Linked DNA regions of Homo sapiens: region 2 is linked to region 1. Evidence: fine-mapped expression QTL. Tissue or cell type: whole blood. Region 1 holds a variant in brackets; the other region holds the start of a gene. All regions are shown on one strand. Distances are between the middles of the regions.

The links. PIP is the estimated chance that this variant, and not a neighbour inherited with it, causes the effect.
Region 2: it holds the start of CCDC170, and the variant in region 1 is fine-mapped to the expression of CCDC170 in whole blood (TOPMed, PIP 0.93).

Annotation. Positions count from the first base shown.
Region 1 is chr6:151,582,596-151,590,702 of GRCh38, forward strand. It overlaps CCDC170 (coiled-coil domain containing 170), which reads left to right. Exons shown (of 11, transcript NM_025059.4): 7 at 3,294-3,494. Among named protein-coding and RNA genes, the nearest start is that of CCDC170, 93 kb to the left of the region's middle. The variant C/T (reference allele first, on the strand shown) is at 4,018.
Region 2 is chr6:151,490,145-151,498,232 of GRCh38, forward strand. It overlaps CCDC170 (coiled-coil domain containing 170), which reads left to right and starts at 3,873. Exons shown (of 11, transcript NM_025059.4): 1 at 3,873-4,041. The coding sequence starts at 3,985. It overlaps LOC124901436 (a long non-coding RNA gene), which reads right to left and starts at 8,062. Exons shown (of 2, transcript XR_007059817.1): 1 at 7,992-8,062; 2 at 6,263-6,920.

The DNA.
Region 1 (8,107 bases):
GAGTAATTGATAAAGAAAAGAGGTTTATTTGGCTCATGGTTCTGCAGGCTATACAAGAAGCACAGTGCCATCTACTTCTGGCAATGAACCTCAAGAAACTTTCACTCATGGCAGAAGATGAAGGGGAGCAGGCATCACATGGCCAGAGAGAAAGAAAGGGAGAGAGAGGAGGAGGTGCCAGGCTCTTTTCAACAACCAGAGCTCATGGGAACTAAGAGTGAGCAGTCACTCAATTCTGCAAGAATGACACCAAGTCATTCATGAAGGATCTGCTTCCATGAACCAAACATCTCCCACTAGGCCCACCTCCAACTGTGAGGATCAAATTTTAACATGCGATTTAGAGAGGACAAATATCCACACTGTATCAGTGTGTTTACTGGAGTAGCACTTTTTTTTTTTTTTTTTTTTTTTTGAGACGGAGTCTTGCTCTGTCACCCAGGCTGGAGTGCAATGGCGCAATCTCAGCTCACTGCAACCTCTGCCTCCCGGGTTAAAGTGATTCTCCTGTCTCAGCCTCCTGAGTAGCTGGGACTACAGGCGCCTGCCACCACGCCTGGCTAATTTTTGTATTTTTAGTAGAGATGGGGTTTCACCATACTGGTCAGCCTAGTCTTGAACTCCTGACCTCAGGTGATCCACCCACCTTGGCCTCCCAAAGTGCTGGGATTACAGGCGTGAGCCACCGTGCCTGGCCTGGAGTAGCACTTTTAATTTCCTTCAAGAACGCTTCCTTTCTATTCCCAGCTTGGCTAATTGGAGTAAGAGGCCCAATTTTTGGCCGATCTCAGATTTCAACATGCCTTTCTTACTAAGCTTAGTCATTTCCATCTTTTGAGTTAAAATGAGAGAAGTGCGACTCTTCGCTTTTTTTTATTTGAGATGGAAGTCTCATTCTGTCACCTAGGCTGGAGTGCAGTGGCGTGATGTTGGCTCACTACAACCTCTGCCTCCCAGGTTCAGGTGATTCTCCTGCCTCAGCCTTCCAAGTAGCTGGGACTACAGGCATGAGCCATCACGTCCAGCTAATTTTTGTATTTTCAGTAGAGATGGGGTTTCGCCATGTTGGCCAGGCTGGTCTTGAACTCCTGACTTCAGGTGATCCACCCAGTTTGGCCTCCCAAAGTGCTGGGATTACAGGCGTGAGCCACTATGCCCAGCCTGACTCTTCCTTTCATTTGAAAACTTAGAGGCCATTGTAAGGTTATTAACTGGCTTAATGTGAATATTGTTGTGTCTCAGGAAATAGGGAGGCCCAAGGAGAGGAAGTGGGGTCAGCCAGTTAGTGGAAAAGTCAGAACGTACACATGTATCATTTAAGTTCACTGACTTATTATGGGAGTGGTTTGTGGCACCCCAAACACTGCAATAGTAACATCAAAGATCTCCGATCACAGATCACCATAACAGATATCATAGTAATGAAAATGTTTGAAATATTGCTAGTATTGCCGAAATGTGACACAGGGACACAAAGTGAGCGTGTGCTGTCAGAAAAATGACGCTGATAGACTTGCTCAATGCAGGGTTACCACAAACCTTCAATTTGTAAAAAACTAAAATATCTGCGAAGAGCAATAAAGTAAGTGCAATAAAGTGAGATGTGCCTGTAGTTAGCCAATTTCCGGCCATCTTCGGTGACTGGGAATCCACTCCCTACTGGACAGTGTCTTTACACAGCTGTAATCATTGTAAAGTTTTCCCTTTCTTCTTTATTTTGATTATTTATTATTTTTAATTTTTTTTCTCAGACCTCACAGGGAAGAGTTTTTCCTTTCTTAGAAAGGAATGCTTAAGTGAATGATGACACATTCTCATGATGAATTCTTAATGCAGCCATTAAAATGTTAATTAAGAATTTCAAACGGCATGAGAATAATTAGGTAAAAACAAAGACATGAAATTGCATGTATAATATTTCAACTATATTTTAACAATACACAAAAACAAATTATTTAAAAATATTAATGGCTTTTGCCTCTGGGTGGTGGGATCACAGGGGATTGTTTTTTGCCTGTTTATACTTTTTGTGGTTAAAAGAAATTTCATGGGGATATCTTACTTTATAATTATAGGAACTGGGGAAAACATTTTCCTTTCATAAATATGGAATTTCTTCTCTGATTTATACCTGTTGGTTCTCAATATAGGCTCCGAGGGTAACTCAGAACAAATCCTTTTGTTCTCCCATATAATAGCCTTTCAAAAAGTTTAAAGGCAGATTACGTGTTTAAGCACGGCTGTTTATAGATGGGCAAACAGAAATTGTTTTCTTTTTAAAAATTTAGACAGTAAAAATCTGAAACAGTCAGGATGTTTCCATTTCTGTGAGAATGGTACTGTACTGTTATGTAAATACTATGTTTTCCCTCTTCTCTTCCAAAATAAACCATCGAAAGAAAACAAATTTATCACCCTAGGCTTGGTGGTTTTATTGAATTCAACATTTTATGAAACTGGATTTAGTAAAATCAGTTTGAGTTTTCTGAGAGTGTCCCTGAGGTCCTTGGTAAACTTGCACTCTTGGTTTAAGGGAATGATCAGGACAAAAAGAGGAACTCCTGGGAAGGATGGGAGCATTGGGCAAATCAGGTGGGTTGTGGAGAGCCTGGAGGGACTTTAACATGGGACAGTACTCAGATTCCCCTGCTCTCTTGTACATTGACACTGACCTTATTTAGAGTCACCATATTAAAGAGATGTTGACCTCTCCAATGCAAAAATGGTATTACTCTATAACTATGTAGTGTAGAGTCAGCATCCCTGGAGTTTAGGGCATAGGTAACCAATCTTCAACAGAAAGCTGAAAAAAGTTTGAAAAAGCATATATCTGTACATGAATTCCCTGTAATACCTCAATGTTACCTACCAAGATTATCTCACTGTCTAATCTTAAGTCAACTCAAAATGGTGAAAGAATTTTTCTGGGGAATGACTCTTTGTAGATTTTTACAGTACTTTTTGTCTTAATTCTTTTTCCTACTAAACTTTGAAACTCTTAGCAATAGTTTTGGGGTAAGTAAATGTTATCCATAAATTTTTATTGATTAACCTGATAAAAGAATTATATAAAAATTAAAAATACCAATCGAAAAATTTAATTCAATAATGAAAGTAGATTATTTCAAACAGAGGCAAATACAGCTATCAATTACATATTTTAAATGGGATTTTTACAAATAATCTGGAAGTTGGTATCATAAACAGTTATGCTGCTTAGGCAGAGCAGTAGATGTGAACACTTCCTTGCATCTGAAACAAGGCTTATTCTTGATCTGTTTCTTTGTTTCCAGATGGTCTCCCAGCTTGAAGCCCAAATATCTGAGCTTGTTGAACAGTTGGGAAAGGAGTCTGGGTTTCACCAGAAAGCTCTCCAGAGGGCCCAGAAAGCAGAGAATATGTTGGAGACTCTTCAGGGTCAGCTGACACACCTGGAGGCAGAGCTGGTTTCTGGAGGTGTTTTGCGAGACAACTTGAATTTTGAGAAACAAAAAGTAATGACCCGAGGGCATGTCCATGAGTGGAAGCATCTGTTGTAGTATAAAATTTTACCTGAAAATATCCTGAATTTTACAGTATTTAGTTTGGTTAAGTCCTGGACTTAATTGGTTAAGTCAATTTCAAGGAACAATGGGTTTGGAGCTTCCTTGATTCAAATTAATTTAATTAAACTCAACGAGTATTTATTGAATGCCTACCATATATGAGGTCCTAAAGGTTTGGCAAGCTAAAATATGAATAATACACAGTTCCTGATCTTAAAGGCTCATAATTCAATAGGGGAGACAGATACTCAGATAATTTGCTGTACTATAAGTTTACACATGTTATATGTATTGAATTAATAAAGTGCTGTAGGAACTTCCAGATAAAGGGAAGATTTTATAGGAGAGGAGATAATTAAGTTCATTTTTGAAAGATAAGTCAGATTATAGTGGAGACAGGAGACAGATACTGTAGGGGAAACAGTTTGAAGAAAGGCATGAAATCTGGCAAGTGCATAGTATATTCAGAGGA[C/T]GCAAAATGGTGAATCCTCCATGGCTGGAACATGTTATTCTCGGTGGATCTGTGGCAAGAGAAAAGACTGGAATGGCTTAGACTATGAAGATGGAGTGTTCTTTACTCTGTAGAATATGAAGTGTGGTAAGTGTGAGCATTGCAGTATTTTATTTTATTTTATGTTTATGTTTATTATTTCTATTTTTTTGAGACAGAGTCTCGCTCTGTTGCCCAGGCTGGAGTGCAGTGGCGTGATCTCGACTCACTGCAACCTCTGCCTCCTGGGTTCACACCATTCTCCTGCCTCAGCCTCCCAAGTAGCTGAGATTACAGGCGCCCGCCACCACGCCCGGCTAATTTTTTGTATTTTTAGTAGAGACGGGGTATCACTGTGTTAGCTGGGGTGGTCTCGATCTCCTGACCTCATGATCTGCCCGCCTCGGCCTCCCAAAGTGCTGGGATTACAGGTGTGAGCCACCGTGCCAGGCCACATTGCAGTATTTTAGAAAGATAGCGTGATGTCCCCGTGGAGCTGAGATTGTGGCATGGAGGGTCTCGGAAACAATGGCACTGATAACCCAGTGGGAGAGGAGAGTTAGACGGGAAGAGAAGGAGCCCGCACTGAGGATTCGAATGTGGGGAGACTGTCAGTGATCTTTGAGAGGCAGTTTTGGTGGAGCGGTGGAGAGCAAAAGCCAGTTTGTTTGTGCTGAGGGGATCCTTGAGAGGAAGGGGAGCGACCTTCTAGTAGACCAGTGTGAAGTCTGGTGACCAAAGAGAAGAGAGGCATGAGGCAGTGGCTGTGAAAAACAAGATCAAAGAAAGGTTTTGCTGGACAGGATGGCGGGGAAAGTATGGACTGAAAGAGTCTGCAGGAGGGAGTGTGGGAAGGGAAAGGGAGGCACACAGGCCCAAGAGCCTCGATGCCAAATTTGGCATGAAAAATGCCCTAAAGTTGAAACATGTACACTCAAGTAACATATTCCTTTTCATTCTTCTGTACTTAAAACATTGAGGAATCATCATGCCTGCATTGAGGTTGGATATGCAAAGATGTGCCAAAGGTGTCTGTGGAAAATCAAGTCTAGCAGATGAGACAGGGAGATCGGGGCGTAATAGTACAATAGTGCAATTAGTGCGCTTAGTGCAATAGTACAATGGTGCAATAGTGCAATTAGTGCAAATAGTACAATTAGTGCCATGATGGAGACAGGTATAAAATTTAACAGAAACCTGGAAAAAGGAGCAATGACTTTTTTTCTGTGTGGTAAGTGAGCCATCTTCACAGAAGAGGGGAGCATTAAAGAATGAGTAGGAATTTGTCAGGCAGAAGAGGTGGGAAGGAATTTGAGGCAGAAAGAATAGCAGGAACAAAGAAGAAATGGAGGTGTGAAAAGAAGGCTCAGGAAATGAATGAGGTGCAGGGAGCCTGGGACATGATACTTGGCGAAACCAAAGGTGTGAGATGGCACTGGAGGCAGCTATAGGAATGATCGAGATGGGTCAGTCTAATGACTCAGGCTTCACTGCGTAGGTAATGGGAAGCCAGAGAAGGTTTTTGAGTAAAAGAAAGATTTCCCTCAAGTCAGACTCGCTTAGAGGGTAGCAGGGGTGTCCAACCTTTTGGCTTCCCTGGGCCACATTGGAAGAAGAAGAATTGTCTTGGGCCACACGTAAAATACACTAACAGTAGTGATAGCTGATAAGCTAAAACAAACAAACAACAACAAAAACACACACACACACAAAACAAACAAAAAACAACCATGCATAATTTTTGAGGTATCTGCCACCACAGATAAGCAAAAAGTCCTCGCCTTCCAAGGGTTGGACACAGCTGAGGGAAGGTAGGGAGCCCAGTTGGTGGCTCCCTGACTGGTCCAGTTAGATAGTCCAGTTCAGACTAGCCCAGTTCAGAAGATAATAAAGATCTGAACCAAGTAGTGGTTTTGTGAATGGAAATAGGGGATAGATTTGAGAAGTCTGGGAGAGTGAAGGGAGCTTTTTCTGTTAGATGTCTGTAAAGGTGTGATGGTGGAAAATTTGATTTTGTAAAGAAATATTGGCTGGGTTTGGTGGCTCACACCTATAATCCCAGCACTTTGGGATGTTGAGGCAGGTGGATCGCTTGAGCTCTGGAGTTCAAGACCAGCCTGGGCAACATGGTGAAACCCCATCTCTACAAAAAACACAAAATTTAGCTGGGCATGGTGGCACACACTTGTGATCCCAGCTACCTGGGAGGCTGAGATGGGAGGATAGCTTGAGCCTGGGAGGTGGAGGTTGCAGTGAGCTGAGATCATACCACTTCAGCCTAGGTGACAGAGTGAGACCCCGTCTCAAAACAAACAAACAAACAAACAAAAAACCAAAAACAGGCCAGATGTGGTGGCTCATGCCTATAATCTCAGCACTTTAGGAGGCTGAGGTGGGTGGATCACTTGAGGTCAGAAGTTCAAGAACAGCCTGGCCAACATGGTGAAACTCCATCTCTACTAAAAATACAAAAAATTAGCCAGGTGTGGTGGTGTGTGCCTGTAATCCCAGCTACCCAGGAAGCTGAGGCAGGAGAATCGCTTGAATTTGAGAGGCAGAGGTTGCAGTGAGCCAAGATTGCGCCATTGTACTCCAGCCTGGGTGACAGAGACTCCCTCTCAAAACAAACAAACAAACAAACAAACAAACACAATAAAACAACCACGACCAAACAAAATGAAATATTGCACCTGAGTATGGTAATGTAAATTGGAAGCCATCTAACTGCCTGCTGGACAGCTTCACCTGCATGGTCCGTGAACACCAAAATACACTCAAAACTGAAATGACATCTGCTCAAATTTGTCCCTCTCCTGCTTCAGTCATGGTGGTAATCTGCCTCCATTTGCCCAAGCCATCTTCAACACTTCCCTCTTTTTAATCAATTCCTAAGCACTGTAAATCCTGTCTCCTTACTAGATCTCCAATGCCTCCCCCATCTCTATATCCAGCAGCTGTGCTTTGGCTCTGAGAATTGTGCTCATTAACACGGACTAGGGAAACAACCTACTAACTGAGCTCCCAGCATTGTTCTTTGTGCCTCAGATTTACTCTCTTCATTGCTGCCAGGGAGGTCTTAATGAAAGGTATGCCTAATCTTATCTTTCTTTATCTTAAAACTGGTCAGTGGTTCTCTGGTGCCCCCAGGATCAGGTACAGATTCCTTCTTTTTCCATGGCCCCACGTTCTGTGAGCTGGCCAGGTGGCCTCTCCATCTTCCCTCTCCCCTGCAATTTCTCCTGCCAGCAGGGGCAAACTCAGAAGCCTTCTGGGAGTGGCAGGACCCTGGTGGGGTCTGCGGTGATTACGGAGCCTAAAGACATCCATGCAGATTTGTAGCAGCACTCGTCTGGCGTCCTCCAGCTGCCTCCTACATTGCCCACTGCTATTTTCACCGAGAGAATGTTCTCCTTACCTCCTTCACCTGGCAGCAGCAATCTCTTCGAGATTCAGCTCAAATACCACTTCCTCTGGCAGTCTTCCCTAAGAGACTTACCTATCTTTCCTTTTGCTCTCCAAGCAACATGCATCTGCCTCTCTCATGGTACTTTTTACCATTATTGGATTGTTTTTAAATTTTTTCTTCTCCAAATATACCAAGCTTCTTAAGGCCAGAAAAAATCATTTTTTCCTGTATTTCTCCAGGGCCTAGAGAAAGAGTCAATAAATATTATTTGAATTATAGAAGAAATATATTAAAGGCAAGAATTTCAGGTGGATTGGTATTTCTTCCCTTCCCTTACTATAAATGAATCATTAATTTTAATTGGGATTATGTTCAAATAACTCTCAGTTATGAAAGCAAATTATGTAAGCTAACTCTGTCCGTCGTGAATTTTCCGTCGCTAACTGCATATGAAATGCACGTTCTGGTAAGGATGGATAGTATCATGTAAATTGAAAAGCAAAGTTGCACAGAGTTTAAATGCTAAATGCAGGTAATCTGGCAGACTCAAAGACAGTAGAATGCAGTTTCTTATTTATGCTGAACTGTGATTCAAATGAACAATATATACAGTAATCCTTCATTTCTATGAAGTTAAAAGTTTCTAGTAACCTTAATCTTTTGAAA
Region 2 (8,088 bases), 92 kb before region 1:
CTCCCAAGCAGCTGGGACTACAGGCGCCTGCCACCACACCCGGCTAATTTTTTGTATTTTTAGTAGAGACGGGGTTTCACCGTGTTAGCCAGGATGGTCTTGATCTCCTGACCTCATGATCCGCCTGCCTTGTCCTCCCAAAGTGCTGGGATTACAGGCGTGAGCCACTGCGCCGGCTAAAAATTTTAATGTGTTTTTTAAATTGACATATGATTGTATATATTTATGGGATTCATAGTGAAGTTTTGATACAAATAATATATAGTGACCAGGATAATTAGCAGATCCATCATCTCAAACATTTATTATTTCTTTGTATTAGGAACATTCAATATCCTCCTTCTAGCTATGTGAAACTATATAATGTACTATAGTGAACAGTAGTCATCAAACAGTGGTATGGAACACTAGAACTGATTCCCCTTGTCTAGCTGTCACTTTGTATCCTTTAACAAATCCGAGCCACTTTTAGAAGGGCTAATGTCAATCATGAGGGTGGTGCCCCCATGACTTCATCATTTCCCAAAGGCCCCACTTCTTAGCACTATCACAATGGGTATTAGGTTCCAACAAATGAATTTGGGGTGGCGAGCACCAACATTTAGATCACAGCAAGTGTTTAGGAAAATACTAAAATTAAGCCTACTCTTTTAAACAACCTTTAGACAATTAAAATGTCATAGGAGTGATTTCAGTGACAAGTTTTCAATCGGAAGTCAAAAGCTCCAAAAGTTATCATATTACAAATGTTCCCGTGAGAAACATGTACATCTGTAAAACAAACAAGCAAACAAGCAAAAGGAGGAAACCAGAGTTCTAAACTTACGACACCACAAGAAAACTCCAAAACAGAGGTCTGTACGGAGGTATTGTGGGCCACACGGTGCTGCCCACACACGGGGTTTTGTGAGAGGTCTGGACTGGAACTTGTTTGTACATTTTTTCTTCCCTCCTTTGCTTAAACTGTTATCAGACCTAGAGACCGCCCCCCTCCAACTCCCAGCCTGAAATGTTCTACCACCATGGTCCCAGCTAGCCCAAATCGTCATCTCCTCCAAGGTCCAGACCTCGGGGTCCCCCCAGCTCAACTTCTTTGACGTCATCACATCATCAGATGCTGCTTGAAGAGTCACTTGGCTCATGTCTTGATATCCCAGAAATCTCAAAGGCATCTGGGGAGGGCTGAGCCAAGTACTTTTTCTGCCTCCAGTTACCACAAAATCACATTGTTTTATACAGAGAAAAATCTGTTTCATGCTGATTTTTAAAGACTGCAAATTTATATCTTCTATTCTCATGAATAAGAGCTACAAGGTTGACCAAACTGAGCAGAATTAGGCTTTATGACATGGGATTCTTAAACAATTGGATTAGAGTTAATGGAGAAGGATTTCCATCTGGTTCTCTTCCAGGTGTCTTGAGTTTTCATCAATTTTGTGTTTCCTCTGGCAGTGTTGGTTCATTGAAAATTTAACAAGTTTGGCCGGGCGCAGTGGCTCACGCCTGTAATCCCAGCACTTTGAGAGGTGGAGGCAGGTAGATCACCTGAGGTCAGGACTTCGAGACCAGCTTGGCCAACATGGTGAAACCCTGTCTCTACTAAAAATACAAAATTAGCAGGGTGTGGTGGCACATGCCTGTAATCCCAGCTAGTCGGGAGGCTGAGGCAGGAGAATCGCTTGAATCCAGGGGGCGGAGTTTGCAGTGAGCAGAGATCGCTCCATTGAACTCCAGCCTAGGTAACGAGCGAAACTCTGTTTGAAAAAAAAAAAGAAAAGAAAATTTGACAAGTTTGTAGTGGTTCTACTGCAAGGAAAAACTACAACTTAAAAATGTGTTTACTCCAAATTGTACTATTAATAGGAGATTTCTGAAAGCCTAAGTTTTCATTAAGAACTTTTTCTTTAACGGTGCATCAAGTGAAAGCCTTGAGATGATTCTGGATTAGATATATGGCAAAGTTACCGTGAGCTCAAAAGCCATTGTCCAGATGAAGAAATCCTCAGGGTCAATATGAATGCACATAGGATGACTGATGGAATCCAAGAAAAGCTGCCATAGCTCTGATTTTGCCTTTTTGTGTTGTCTTTAGAGACATGCTCTTGCTCTGTCGCCCAGGCTGGAGTGCAGTGGTGATCATAGCTCACTGCAGCCTTGACCTCCTGGGCTCAAAGCTATCCTCCTGCTTTAGCTTTCTTTTTTTTTTTTTTTTTTAAGATGGCGTCTTGCTCTGTCACCCAGGCTGGAGTACAGTGGTGCTATCTCAGCTTATTGCAACCTCCGCCTCCCAGGTTCAAGCGATTCTCCTGCCTCAGCCTCCCAAGTAGCTGGGATTACAGGCATGTGCCACCACACCTAGCTAATTTTTGTATTTTTAGTAGAGACAGGGTTTCACTATGTTGGCCAGGCTGGTCTCGAACTCCTGACCTCAGGTGATCCACCTGCCTCAGCCTCCCAAAGTACTGGGATTATAGGTATGAGCCACCTCACCTGGCCCCGCCTTAGCCTTCTGAGTAGCTAGGACTACAGGTGTGCACCACCATGCCTGGCTAATTTAAAAAAAAAAAAAAAAAACTTGTAGAGATAGAGTCTTGCTGTATTGCCCAGGCTGGTCTCAAACTCCTGGCCTCAAGCAATCCTCCCACCTGTTTGATTTCATGTGTCTCAAACAGCATAGGAGTCTACTAAAGGCTTTTTTCTTTTTTTTTTTTTTTTTTTTTGAGGCAGATTCTTGCTCTGTCACCCAGGCTGGAGTGCAGTGGCTCAATCTTGGCTCACTGCAACCTCTGCCTCCCAGGTTCAAATGATTTTCCCTGCCTCAGCCTCTCAAATAGCTGTATTACAGGTGTCCGCTACCACGCCCGGCTAATTTTTGTATTTTTAGTAGAGACAGGGTTTCACCTTCTTGGCCAGGCTGGTCTCAAACTCCTGACCTCAAGTGATCCACCCATCTCAGCCTCCCAAAAGTGTTGGGATTACAGGAGTGAGCCACCGCGCCTGGCCCACCAAAAGCTTTAAAGTGAGGTGAATGCAGATTCCATTTTCAGATTCTGCTACAAATTGTGGGACCTTAAACAAGTTACTCATCTTCTCTGTGCTTTAGTGTTATGATCTGGAGCCTGATCTTCATTCTACCACTTACCCTGTACATCTTGGAAATTTTATTTTATTTCCCTGTGACTGTTGCCTTGTCTTGCAGATGGATTATTCTAACATCCACTTCATAATCTTGTTTCATTTAAGGAGATTGATCATACGTGGGAAGCACTTAGAACAGTGCATGGACGAGCACGAGTATTTCATAATGAGCAGCTGTGGCTGTTACTAACACTGGTATTACTAGTACCCGTACTTCCAGGCAGGGTTGTTGAGAAGGTGAAATGAAAGAACGCACACCAGGGCAGGCTACATAATTTGTGGACCCCGGTACAGAATGAAAATGCAGGACACCTTGTTCAAAACTTCCTAAAAACGTCAAGACTGGGACAGCTGAGTATTAAACCAAGCGCAGGACCCGGACCTGCACAGGTTGCACGCTCGCAGACACATTTGCACACAGTGTGTGCTAAATAAATGCTCCGTTCACCCTTGTGAAGTTTCCTATGCCTCACTCGCGCCAGCACCGTTCACAGTGCCCACTGGCTGTATTTATCGCTGACATAAGGATGAGGCCTGGAATTGCATTCACTGCAGAGTCCCACCGGGAGGACCGACCGTTATCCCCGCCGACTCCCCCCAGGTCGCCCTGGCAGTTTCGGCCGCTCAGTTGCAGGCCCTCGCCACGGAGGCCACGCTCGGGGGTTCGGGGTCCACCCCGGCCTCCTGCGGCCGGGCCACCCTACTCGCGCGCAGCCGCGCGCCGCCGCGTCCCCGCGGTGTTTACCCGTTGCCCGAGGAGACACCCGCGCCACCCGCCGGCTCCCGGCGCCGCCGCTTCCTCAGGGCCGGTTCCGGGTCCGAGCGCGCCCCCGGGCTCGGGTCGTCATGAGCCTGGACTGCACCAGCCATATCGCGCTGGGTGCCGCTTCGCCAGCGCCCGAGGTACGGTCCCAGCCGCCGGCCGCGCGCGGGGGTGGCCCTGGGGATAGACGACCCAGGAGGGGCCGAGGCGCCCCTGATTTGCACCCTTTTCCTCCCGGAGGCGTGGGCAGAATCAGAGCAGCTCTGTGCCCGCGAGGGCTGTGGCCTGGGACTGCCAGGGCGCTGATTTCAGGAGGGGATGGGCAGGACCGGAGTTTGCGGAGCGCGTCTGAATTTTAGGTTGTGCCACTCTGCTTCTCTGACCATTTAAACCGGTGACATTCGAAAGACTGTGGCCGGGCAGTTCCTCCCCGCCACCCCTGGGAGCAAAGAATTCCTTCATTTAACTTTCCCTGCTTAGCTACTGAAGTGTGCTTCGGAGCAATTTCTGGAAAATCTGATGTGGCAGGAGGAGGGCCAGCCCGGAGTAGAGTCACCGGCCCTTTCGTTGCGAAGTAATCCAGAAACGTTGGTAATTCAGTTGTTCCTGAATGCATCTACTCATTTACTCCCAGGAGTTACTTAGGTACTGGGGACTTTCAGGTATTAGATGTACCAATGCGCGCGCGCACACACACACGAACATGCGCGCATACACAGACGCTCGTGCACACACGCGAACAGGCACATACGCGAACAAACACGGGCGCGCACACACACGAACACGGGCATATGCATACTTGGGCGCACAAGAAGATCTGGCTGGCTCAGTCTGGGTTAAGAATCCCCCTTTGGCCTTGGCATCGGGGCCCACCGGGTATCGTGTGTATTGGGAGTAGTTGCCAGAGATGGGGGAATTGTGTTCAGCTCAACTGCTAACCGCAAGTAACTCACCCAATTAGTAAATGATGGAGGATTTTTCTTTCTTTCCAAAGTTTTGGACTTTTCCTACCACGCTGTGTACTGACCATAGATATCCCTGGGGGATGTAGTGGATTCAAAACATGAGTTGGATTCTCCAACGTGCCATCGGAATTCTTCTAATATTCAGCAGCTTTGATTGTTGTTTTACATCTGACCTGTATTTAGATTTCTCTGATTCCTGGAATATTTGTGGAAAATAAGTACCACTGTGTGCAAATAAAACTATTTTTTCTTTCTTTCTAACTCAGAGGCCAGTTACTAGATGTTTTTTCTTTCATCTGACATTTTCATATTTGACTTTATTAATTTTTATCCCAATGTGGTGTCTTAACCATACATAAGTATGTGGTATTTTTATATTATTAATATATATTTTTTTTGGTGAGCCCATTGAGAGTAAATTACAGCCATCATGATTCTTTCTTTCTCTCTCCTTTTTTTCTCTTGTTCTCTCCCTCCCTCCTTTTCTTTCTTTCTTCTTTTTTTCAGACAGGGTCTCACCTTGTTACCCAGGCTCGAGTGCAGTGGCACGATCTCGGCTCGCCGCCGCCTTGACACCCCTGGGTTCAAACGATCCTCTCACCTCAGCCTCCAGAGTAGCTGGGACTCCAGGCATGCCATGATGCCTGGATAATTTTTGTGTTCTTTGCAGAGGCAGAGTTTTATCGTGTTGCTCAGGCTGGTCTCAAACTCCTGAGCTCAAGCGATCCACCTGCCTCAGACTCCCAAAGTGCTGGGATTACAGAGATGCACTACCATGCCTGGTCCCCTATGACCTTTCATCTGTAAATACTCTGGTGTGTTATCTCCTATGAATAAGGGCATTCTCTAACGAACATACAATGATCAAAATCGGGATGTTTAGCATTGTGACAATAATATTATCTAATATACACGACCTACTAAAACTTTGCCACTTGTCCCAATTATGCCATTTATTGCCAATTTTTTTTCCATCTCAGGATCACACACTGTATTTAGTTATGTCTCCAGTCTCTTCAAACCTGGAACAGTTCTTCACATTTTTTTTGTTTGTTTTTTTGTTTGTTTGTTTTTGTCTTTGATGATACTGACATTTTTGCAGAGTCCAGGTCATTCGTTTTATAGAGTAAGTTTCTCTGATTGTCCTTCGTGATTAGATTTTTGGGTAGGAATAACATAAGAGATGTTATGTCTCAGAGTATCACATCAGGAGGGGCATATATCAGCTTATCCCATTATTGGTGATGTCCCCAGCTGGTGGCCTCTGCCAGATTTTTCCCCTTTAGCAATAAATAAGAAATCATATTAGTTGAGTAATAATATTGATTCGGATAGAAATTTTTAGCATAAGTCACTGCCTACAAAAGGAAAATGTCCATTAAGCATGAGATTTTAATTGGCTTAAAATAACTAAATTTTATTGAGAACAAAAGTAGCTGCAGAAAAGGCAGCATTTATTACAATTAAATGTTCAGTTTGCAAAATACTTTATCTGAGATCATCTTATAATTTAGATAGGCGGGGCAGAAATTTCTCACTATATAAGATGAGGAAATAGCTTACTGGATTAGAAATGATGGAGCAGGGACTTGTATCTTTCTTTCAAAAGCTTTGTACTTTTCCTACCATGCCAGACTGAAAACATTAAATTACAAAGCAGTGATAGTCTGCAACTTTCTGGAAAAGTAAAATACTGTAGAGACTGAGATACTAGTTTTAGACTCAAAACTAGATTCAAACAATCCTGATTATACCACTCATCTGTGACATCTTGGTCAAAACAATTAATGTATCAGCATTTTAGTTTTTTCTTCTAAAACATGGAATCATAAAACTTATCGCATAACGTAGTTTGAGGATTTCACGGTTAATAAATGTAAGGCACTCAAGAGAGTGTCTGACAGAATAAGTGCATATCAATATTAGCTATCGTTATTCTTTGTAACTTTTGGAATTTGCTTTGGTGTCAACACCACTGCACCTACTCCTACCATCATCACCAATGCTTCCATCAGTACTTCAGCCACCATCTCAATAGTCAGTGTTTTGAGAATCTGTAGGAGGGACAGAGGATACAAAAATGAATTGGAGATTGACCCTGCTCATAATGAAGAATTGACAGTTTACAATCCACTTTGGGAGGCAGAGGTGTGTGGATCGCTTGAGCCCAAGAGTTTAAGACCAGACTGGGCAACATGGCAAAACCCCGTCTCTACAAAAAACACAAAAAGTACCCAGGCATGGCCTGTAGTCCTAGCTACTTGGGAGGCTGAGGTGGGAGGATCACTTGAGCCCAGGAAGTTGAGGCTGTTGTGAGCCTTGATCGCACTACTGCACCCCAGCCTGGGCAACAGAACAAGACCCTGGCTCAAAAATAAAATAAAAATTAAAAAAGAGTTTACAATCAAGAAAAACAGACACATAAAAAGATTACTCCTTCATCAACACTAAAATTTAATGCTGCACTCTTCTCAAGTTGGATTTACCTATAATGCGATCACCAGCACAGCCTTACTGGGATGGAAAATGTGACAAATACTAACAGCAATATTATGAGAATTGAAGTGGAGCAGCCCAAACATGAAGGAAAGAGATATGCTTTGGGGGAAGTTTACAAACATAGCTTTCAGTAAGACTGCATAACTTTGTCATGCATTTGAAATAACGCTACCCAGTGAAAATGTGCTGGGTGCGGTGGCTCATGCTTGTAATCCCAGCACTTTGGGAGGCTGAGGCGGGAGGCTCACTTGAGGTCAGGAGTTCGAGACCATCCTGGCTAACATGGTAAAACCCCGTCTGTACTAAAAATACAAAAAGTAGCCAGGCTTGGTGGCAGGTGCCTGTAATCCCAGTTACTGGGGAGGCTGAGGCAGGAGAATTGCCTGAACCTGGGAGGCAGAGGTTGCAGTGAGCCAAGATTGTGCCACTGAACACACCATCTCAAAAAAAAAAAAAAAAAAAAAAAGAAAAGTGACCTAATTATAAAATAGGATCACCAGTCAGCAAAAAGCTGTAGCAATAGTTCTGTGGAAAGTGCTTGGATTCCAAATCCTCTGACACCAGTGAGAAGCCACAGACATATGGTGGCTTGTAGGCTCTCTTGCTGTGGCAGTGTTTTCACATACCTGGAAAACCTAGATCAAAGTTACAGCTCCAGTAGATACCATTGTTGGGAATTTGAGCATCTCTTTCCTTTCTGTAAAACAAGGGTTAATTAGAATA